Homo sapiens: one gene and its partner. The protein of the gene in region 1 purifies or fractionates together with the protein of each later gene. This does not show direct contact. Each region holds a gene or a part of one and is shown in the gene's direction. Other genes may lie near its edges.

What was found. The genes of interacting proteins can lie anywhere in the genome.
Region 2: the proteins of ISG20L2 (region 1) and KSR2 purify together in Homo sapiens (co-immunoprecipitation; one large-scale study listed by IntAct). This does not show direct contact.

The regions. Positions count from the first base shown.
Region 1 is NC_000001.11:156,725,967-156,730,251, reverse strand, and holds the start of ISG20L2 (interferon-stimulated 20 kDa exonuclease-like 2), read left to right. Parts: upstream 1-1,485; 5' UTR 1,486-1,837; exon of another isoform or gene 1,838-2,482; 5' UTR 2,483-2,599; coding exon 2,600-3,346; exon of another isoform or gene 3,347-4,285. Other genes in the region: METTL25B (methyltransferase-like protein 25B), read right to left, coding at 1,037-1,147. UniProt on the Homo sapiens protein: 3'-> 5'-exoribonuclease involved in ribosome biogenesis in the processing of the 12S pre-rRNA. Displays a strong specificity for a 3'-end containing a free hydroxyl group.
Region 2 is NC_000012.12:117,528,491-117,531,990, reverse strand, and holds part of KSR2 (kinase suppressor of Ras 2), read left to right. Parts: intron 1-283; coding exon 284-325; intron 326-977; coding exon 978-1,050; intron 1,051-2,933; coding exon of another isoform or gene 2,934-2,994; exon of another isoform or gene 2,995-3,445; intron 3,446-3,500. UniProt on the Homo sapiens protein: Location-regulated scaffold connecting MEK to RAF. Has very low protein kinase activity and can phosphorylate MAP2K1 at several Ser and Thr residues with very low efficiency (in vitro).

The DNA.
Region 1 (4,285 bases):
AGACAGTAGGAGCCAGAATATGGGTTTTATAGGTAATAGTAAGGAGTTAGGATTTCATAAAAGTATCTAGGAAGCAAGGGATTGTCGTGATCAGATTTACATTTGAATGCTATCAATCTAGCTGCTCAGTGAAGAATTGGTAATGGCAGGGCAGAGGTAAGCACACAGCAAGATCGGTTAGGAAGTAGTTCAGAAGAGAGGTGATGGTGGCTTGGCCTAGGGTGGCAGCAACGGAGGTGGGGACAAATGGATGAATTTGGGATCTATTCCGAAGGCAGAGCCAAGAGGACTTGTTGAAGAACTGGATTGTGGATCAATGAAGGACAGCACTGAATCAATGATGGCCTCTGGGTTTGTGGTCTAAACAATTCAGTGGATGGTGGTGCCATTTACACATTCTCTCATTTATTCTTCACAATAATCCTTCAGACTGGGATCCATTGTATAGCTGAGGAAACCCGGACTAGGACAAGTTGGGGGTTAGGGAGGCCTAAGGTTAACATCATAGGGGAGGCAGGATTCTAGACTAAGCCTTTTTGATTCCAGAGCCAGGACTGTCTACTATACCACAAAACCACGAATTTATTCAAAGCTTGGATGAATAACGTGTGTTCTTGGAACACCTGACATGCTCCAAGAAGAGTTCAACATAGTTGCAGCATGGTTCCAATGTCCACGCATTTTATTACCTTGGATCTGGGAAGATTACAAAAACAATCTAGGTAGGTACTAGAAATATTATTTATGCAGTGAGCCGAGATCGTGCCACTGCACTCCAGCCTGGGGGACAGAGCGAGACTCCGTCTCAAAAAAAAAAAGAAAAAAAAAAAGAAAAAGAAAAAAAAAGAAATATTATTTATGTCAGCTGAAAAAAAAGGAGGGATCACTCCAGTTTTAACCCCTTCTTGTACAGAAAAAGACTGAAACTCATAGAAGGAAAGAGATCAGAGGCTAATTCTCCAGATTCTCTCCCTGACGTGGGCACCTAGCCAACCACACGACCAGAGACATCCCACCCACGCCCCTGTGGCCTCACGATGATGTAGGCATCCAAGATGGAACGGTAGAGTGCCAGGACACGGGTGAGGTTAACAGCTAGCTGCTTCCTCCCCTCATGAGAGAGGCCTCGGGCGGAGATGCCCGGCATCCCGGGGTCCAGCAGGGAGCGCGGGGAGCGAGAACGCAGTGAACAGGGATCCAGGGTCAGTACTACGCGGGTCCAGGACCCGGACGGGGCTCAACTCTGCAGGCAGAACAGGAAGAGTTTTGGGTCCAGTCTCCGACGCTGCCTTTCCGGGATCCGATGCTGGAGTGGAAGATTTGAGGCGCCCCCCAGACGTCACAGGTCGCGACGTTTCACAGTGAGAAGGTGTCAGCGTCAGAGACACGTAGGGCGGGGTAACAGTGCAGTGACGCCACAAAAGCGTGCCGCTGAGCTCAGCTCACAACGAGGCGGGCCAAGTTCCAGTTCCCGCCCCTTGCCGTACACTCCTCTCCTCTTACGGAAGTGAAGCCGGAGGTGTCCGGCGGGCTGCAGTTCCGGTTTATCGCGGCCTTCCCACACCTTCGCGTTGTACCACCACGGGGCTAGAGGGGCCGGGGAGCGCATCCCGCCCCCGCCCCCACCCACGCCGCCCCCTCCTCCGCCGCCACTGCCGCTCCTCACACACTCGGAATCACTGGCCTCACTACCTGGGGTCGGGGCGGTGCGGGTGTGCGCGCGCCGACCTCTGGCGCGTTCTAACCCGCGCGCCTGCCTTCCCGGGCTTCGTCGGCGCGCACCGATTTCCGCATCCGGCTCCGGACGCTTCCGGTCTTAGCTGGACCCGTCTGGGAGGTAGGTTTGTGAGCGTGAGAGATCGATCTGTACCGCGGGGATCCGAAGTATGCTTATCCAGGTGGGCTGCCTCAAGCCTCGATCCCACCCCCGCGCTGGTAGATGGTGTCAAGGTCCTTGCGTGGGAGAAGGACTTGGGTGAGATGCATGCGGAGATTGCCCCCAATTCCGGCCTGGAGCCAAGGGAAAGGGATGCCTGGATTTGTGTCTCTATTGGTGGTCCACGCTGCGGATGCCTGGGTAGCCCAGAGGTTATCTACGCCATACTTCTCACTGTTTTTGAGCATACCTAGATGTTCCTTTCCTAGGCGGAGTATAGATCGCACGTGTTCTAGCCTCTTAGACTCAGAGGGTTCGAGCTCTATAAGCCCCTCCACTCCCTTCATTTTACAAATGAGACTCAAACCTAGAGCGCGGTAATGACCTTACTAAGACCAAATGGCTGGTGAATTGGGCTTCACTAGAATCCAGGCTTGCTGGCTAACACCAATGCTCCCTCCATCATTTCATGTTATGTTTTCATTTCCCCTCTGTCTGAGAGATTGCTCTGATGTCTTTCCTTCCATAAGTCCTACGGAGATCGAGCTTACCTCATTTTTCTCCCAGGCCTAGGAGCTCAATTACCAGGATCACTTTCTTCCCCAGGGTGTACTACAGACCTCCACATGTTGGACAGTAGGATTCAGCAGAGAATGAGTCCCACATCCTCTTTTCATCCATAAGCCACTCTTCCCAACTACTCTTCCGCCTTCCATTGTCCCTATGTCTACTTTACTGCTCAATCTGGATTTTGGGGAACCTCCTCCCAAAAAGGCATTAGAAGGAAATGCCAAGCACCGAAATTTTGTCAAGAAGCGGAGGCTCTTAGAACGGAGAGGCTTTCTGAGTAAAAAGAACCAACCCCCTAGCAAGGCGCCTAAGTTGCACTCTGAACCTTCAAAGAAAGGGGAAACTCCTACGGTCGATGGCACTTGGAAGACCCCTTCCTTCCCAAAAAAGAAGACAGCTGCTTCCAGCAATGGGTCAGGACAGCCCCTGGACAAGAAAGCTGCAGTGTCTTGGTTGACCCCTGCCCCTTCAAAAAAGGCTGATTCTGTTGCTGCTAAAGTAGATTTGCTGGGGGAGTTCCAGAGTGCCCTTCCAAAGATCAATAGCCACCCAACCCGCTCTCAGAAGAAGAGCTCCCAGAAGAAATCCTCTAAAAAGAACCATCCTCAGAAGAATGCCCCACAGAACTCCACCCAAGCTCATTCAGAGAATAAATGCTCCGGAGCATCCCAGAAGTTGCCACGGAAGATGGTGGCAATTGACTGTGAGATGGTGGGCACAGGACCAAAGGGGCATGTTAGTTCCTTGGCTCGATGTAGCATTGTCAACTACAACGGAGATGTGCTTTATGACGAGTACATTCTTCCCCCCTGCCACATTGTGGACTACCGAACCAGGTGGAGTGGTATCCGGAAGCAGCACATGGTGAATGCCACACCCTTCAAGATTGCTCGAGGCCAGGTAAGAAGCATGGGGCTTGATGGTGGCAGGGAGGTGGATGGAGAGAGGTCTAAATCATTTTTCAGCAAAGGATATCACTATGGGAAGACACCAACGTTTGTGGAGGGAGGGAGGAGAATCTATCAGTTGTTGAAGAAGGCCCCCTGTCGGTGGAAGAAGCAGTGAAAGTCAGGAAGGTACAATTAGCTGGTGTCACAAACTTCATTGGTCAAGATCTATTTTAGCCGGGCGCAGTGGCACTTGCCTATAATCCCAGCACTTTGGGAGGCTGAGGCGGGAGAATCGCTCAAGCCCAGGAACTCAAGCCCTGTCTGGGCAACATAGCGGAACTCATCTACAAAAAAGTTAGCCAAGTGTGGTACATGCCTGTAGTCCCAGCTACTCAGGAGGTCGAGGCTGCAGTGAGCTGAGATCACACCACTGCCACTGCACTCCAGCCTGAGCGACAGAGTGAGATCCTGTCTCAAAAAAACAAACAAAAAAACTATTTTAGGTTCTAAATTGGGTCTGGGGAACTGGGAATCTGCATAGAAAAATAACAGCAAGTGATGAAACTAGACAGAGCTGCAGACACCAGTGTCAGGAGAAAGGGCTTGATTTGGAAAAACCTTGCGAGTTGGAGCCTAAGCTTGAGAGAGGAAAGGTGGAGAGCTCGTCCCAAGCAAAAAGTAGCCTGGGGCAAGTGCGGAAAGTGGTGGTGGTAAGAGAGGGCAGAAAGTTGACAGGAGGAGCTGGGGTATATATTGTCCAACTGGAACAGGTAACCAGTGAACGGCATAAACGGCACAGGGCCGGCACTTCGGGTTGTCATCTCACTCCTAGCCCTGTGCTGGCCATGGAGCGCAAGGCATGAACGGAAAGGAGAGTGAGCTGGGAGGGGTGAAAGAGGAAGTGAAGGGAGAGCAAGAGACCTGCTGGTCTCAGGAGGCCGCCAGAGGG
Region 2 (3,500 bases), on another chromosome or scaffold:
CATTTCACAAAAATGGTATTGTAGTCAGAATGTCTGTTTGAGTTGGAGCAGTCTGATTTTAGGGAGTGTGAGATGTCAGATGGGAGGGTCGGCATGGATGTTTAGAGTTCTGGTTTCTTTACACATGTTTGCAGTCCCTTGTCTGCAGGGATGTCTGCAGAAGTATGGAAACTCTTGAAGGTGGGCAGAGAATGACCATGTGGTGGCTGTAAGAGCTCAATCTGGTCCCTGAAGCGATGTCTCCCTGGGGACACTCACTTTGATGTTTTCTTTCTTTTGCAAGCATCCCACTACTACAAATACAAGCAGCAGTTCATCTTCCCAGGTGAGTTTCATGTGAGCTGGAAGCAGCCCCTTCTGAACAAGCCCCGCTGCATTGCAGGAGTTTCTGGGATGAATGGAGGCAGATGTTGTGGGGGTGCCTAAGATCAAAGAGGGTAGTGGAGTCACCACACTCCAGGATAATGGCTGAACATGGAAGTGGAGAAGAAAGAGTGGGCACAGTGGGACCCAAGGAGGTCCCAAGGCACCGTGGAAAGGCCTGAGAGGGTGGAGTGCTGTAGAACACTGGGCGAGGGTGAGGAGGGGTCTAGAGCCATGTGGCAGGAAAGAGATGGTCATAGGGTCCTGAGCTGGGTACTGAGAGGATGTGAAACCAAGGGGCTTTATCATCCCAAAGGGAACCCAGGAGAAAGAAAGATTCAGAGATGACCAATGAATGCTTCAGGCTAGATATTTGAGGGTTCTGGCAGCCCCCTATTCAACAATGAGGAATTTTGTTGAGGATGTCATCCAGAACCCTGGTCCAGCTGAGCAGGTAGAGTCCAGGTGGTCCAGGAAAGGAGAAAGGAGATTGGCCAAGGGCAGAGATCCAAGATCTGGTGAAAAATTGGCTGCCATGTCGCCCAGGAATCAGGCCTTTGCGGGGGTTGTGGACTTCACATTTTTTTTCTGAGTGTTCAATCTCTGGTTTTCAGATGTGGTGCCGGTGCCGGAGACGCCGACCCGGGCGCCCCAGGTCATCCTGCATCCGGTGACCTCGAATCCAATGTAAGTGAGACAGAGACATCTTCCCCCTTTCCCAAGCTTCCCAGCCCTGGCCCTACAATCCACTCAGGTTCCCTATCTTCTTTCCTTCTCTTCCTGGAACTGATGGAGTTGGGGGCAGAGGGAGATGTACAAGGGGGTCAGAGAGACATAGGGAATAACTTAGGCAAAGAGAAAGGGCGTGACAGCTCAGACAGAGAGATGGAGAGAGAGGCAATGCTGTTCCTCACGAGCAGCTATGCCTTGTGTCTCTGACCCTGCCTGTCAAATGCAATTTCCAGGGGCTGGACCGTTTCCTAAGGACCCATAACCTCCCTGTGATTAGGAAGAAAACTTTCCCCGGGTGATAGCTAGTACTTAATGAAAGGGCAATTATTCCATGTCACTGAACATGGAATAACTTTCAAAAGTCTCATTGAGGTTTATGGAATCAGCAAACTATAGCCCATGGGACAGATCCAACCTCCTGCTTGTTTTTATTTAAAGTTTTATTGGAACACAGCCATGCCTATTTGTTTACAATGTATTGTGCATGGTTGCTTTCTCCATGCAGCAGCAGAATCGAGTAGTTGTAACATAATCTGTATGGCTTGCAAAGCCAAAAATATTTACTCTATGACCCTTTGCAGAAAGAAATTTGCTAACCTCTGGTTTATATTATTATAAAAATAATATAAGCTAATTTTGGAAAATGTGGGCTATTCTTTAAAAAGGGAAAGGCAAAATAATCACTCATGATCTCACCACTGTTAAAACTTCTATGTGTGTTCTTTCCATTTATATTTTACATAGTTATGACCCACAATATATGCAAGCAGCTACCATCCTGCTTTGTTATCTTTATGCCAAACATCACATTTTATGAATATTATTTTAGCCTCTCCATAGACATTGTTGGTTTTTGTTTTTTGTTTGTTTGTTTTGAGACAGAGTCTCACTCTGTCACCCAGGCTGCAATGCAGTGGTGCAATCACGGTTCACTGCAGCCTCAGCCTCCTGGGCTCAAATGATCCTCCCAGCTCAGCCTCCCGAGTAGCTGGGATTACAGGTGTGTGCCACCACACCCAACTAATTTTTGTATTTTTTTTTTAATTTTTTATTTTTGTAGAGACAGGGATTCACCATGTTGCCTAGGTGGGTCTCAAACTCCTAGGTGCAAGTGATCATTCCACCTCAGCCTCCCAAAGTGCTGGGATTACAGGCATGAGCCACTGCACCTGTCTGATATTGTTTTTAATGGGTGTAAAATGACATATTGATGTAGAATAATTTTCTTAACCATTTTCCTATTGCTGGATTTTACATTGCTTCCCATATTTCATTGTTGTAAATAATGCTGCAATGAACATCTTTGTGCATAGCATCCTTAGGAAACAGACCCTCTTTTCAGGTGGTTTATTGCTTGTGCAGCAGAAGTGAAGTCACCTTGGCCAGGCGCAGTGGCTCATGCCTGTAATCCCAGCACTTTGGGAGGGCAAGGTAGGAGGATCACCTGAGGTCAGGAGTTGGAGACCAGCCTAGCCAACCTGGTGAAACCCCGTCTATATTAAAAATACAAACATTAGTCAGGCGTGGTGGCACACAACTGTAATCGCAGCTACTTGGGAGGCTGAGGCAGGAGAATTGCTTGAACCCAGGAGGTGGAGGTTCAGTGAGGTGGGATTGTGCCACTGCACCCCAGCCTGGGCAACAGAGGGAGACTCTGTCTAAAGAAGAAAAAAGTGATGTCACAAAGTCACCTCCTTAACTTCTTTGGTTGCGATGGAAGCCTGGGGCTTGCTAGGATTTGACCAGTTTCCTAACTCACCTTTGTGCCTACTTAGTTTTTCTTCTGGGTCCCCTAACTGCTTCATCTTTTCTGACTGGTCTTATGGACTTTGTTAAAGACTTACATGGTACATCTCTGAAATCAAAGGAGCAGCAACTTGCCGGGGGATATGGTGCTGACATCTAGCTCGAGATCATTTCTCTGCTTCACATAAACCAATTCTACAATTTGTGCAAGATGAACTCCAGGTTATTAACTGACAGTCCAGAGGTACCAGCGAAAAACAGAGTCAATAGCTGCTTGCGATCTGCTTAAATGTGCGCGGAGTGATGACAACTCTTTGCAGAAGGAAATACTTGAATAGCCCTGGCTGCTGGAATCACGCCTTGATGCAGAGAGGAGGGTGGCCTGTTTTGGTTTTGGGCATGAGGAGGGACTCCAGCTGCATTGTCCCAGCCAAGTCTCCCCCAGGGCATCAAGTTCTCAGCATGTCAGCTGTCATCGTGCAGGTTCATTCCACTTTCCCAGGCTGTGCTATGAATAATTGGTTAATACCATGGCGAATGCCACTTTGTGGTTGACCTTTCTTTCTCCTTCTTTTAGTTCTTGTGGTCTTTCAGACTCTTTCACCAGGACCCCCTCCAGCAAGTGGATTGACTCTGTGGAGTCAGCCACTTCCTGCAAT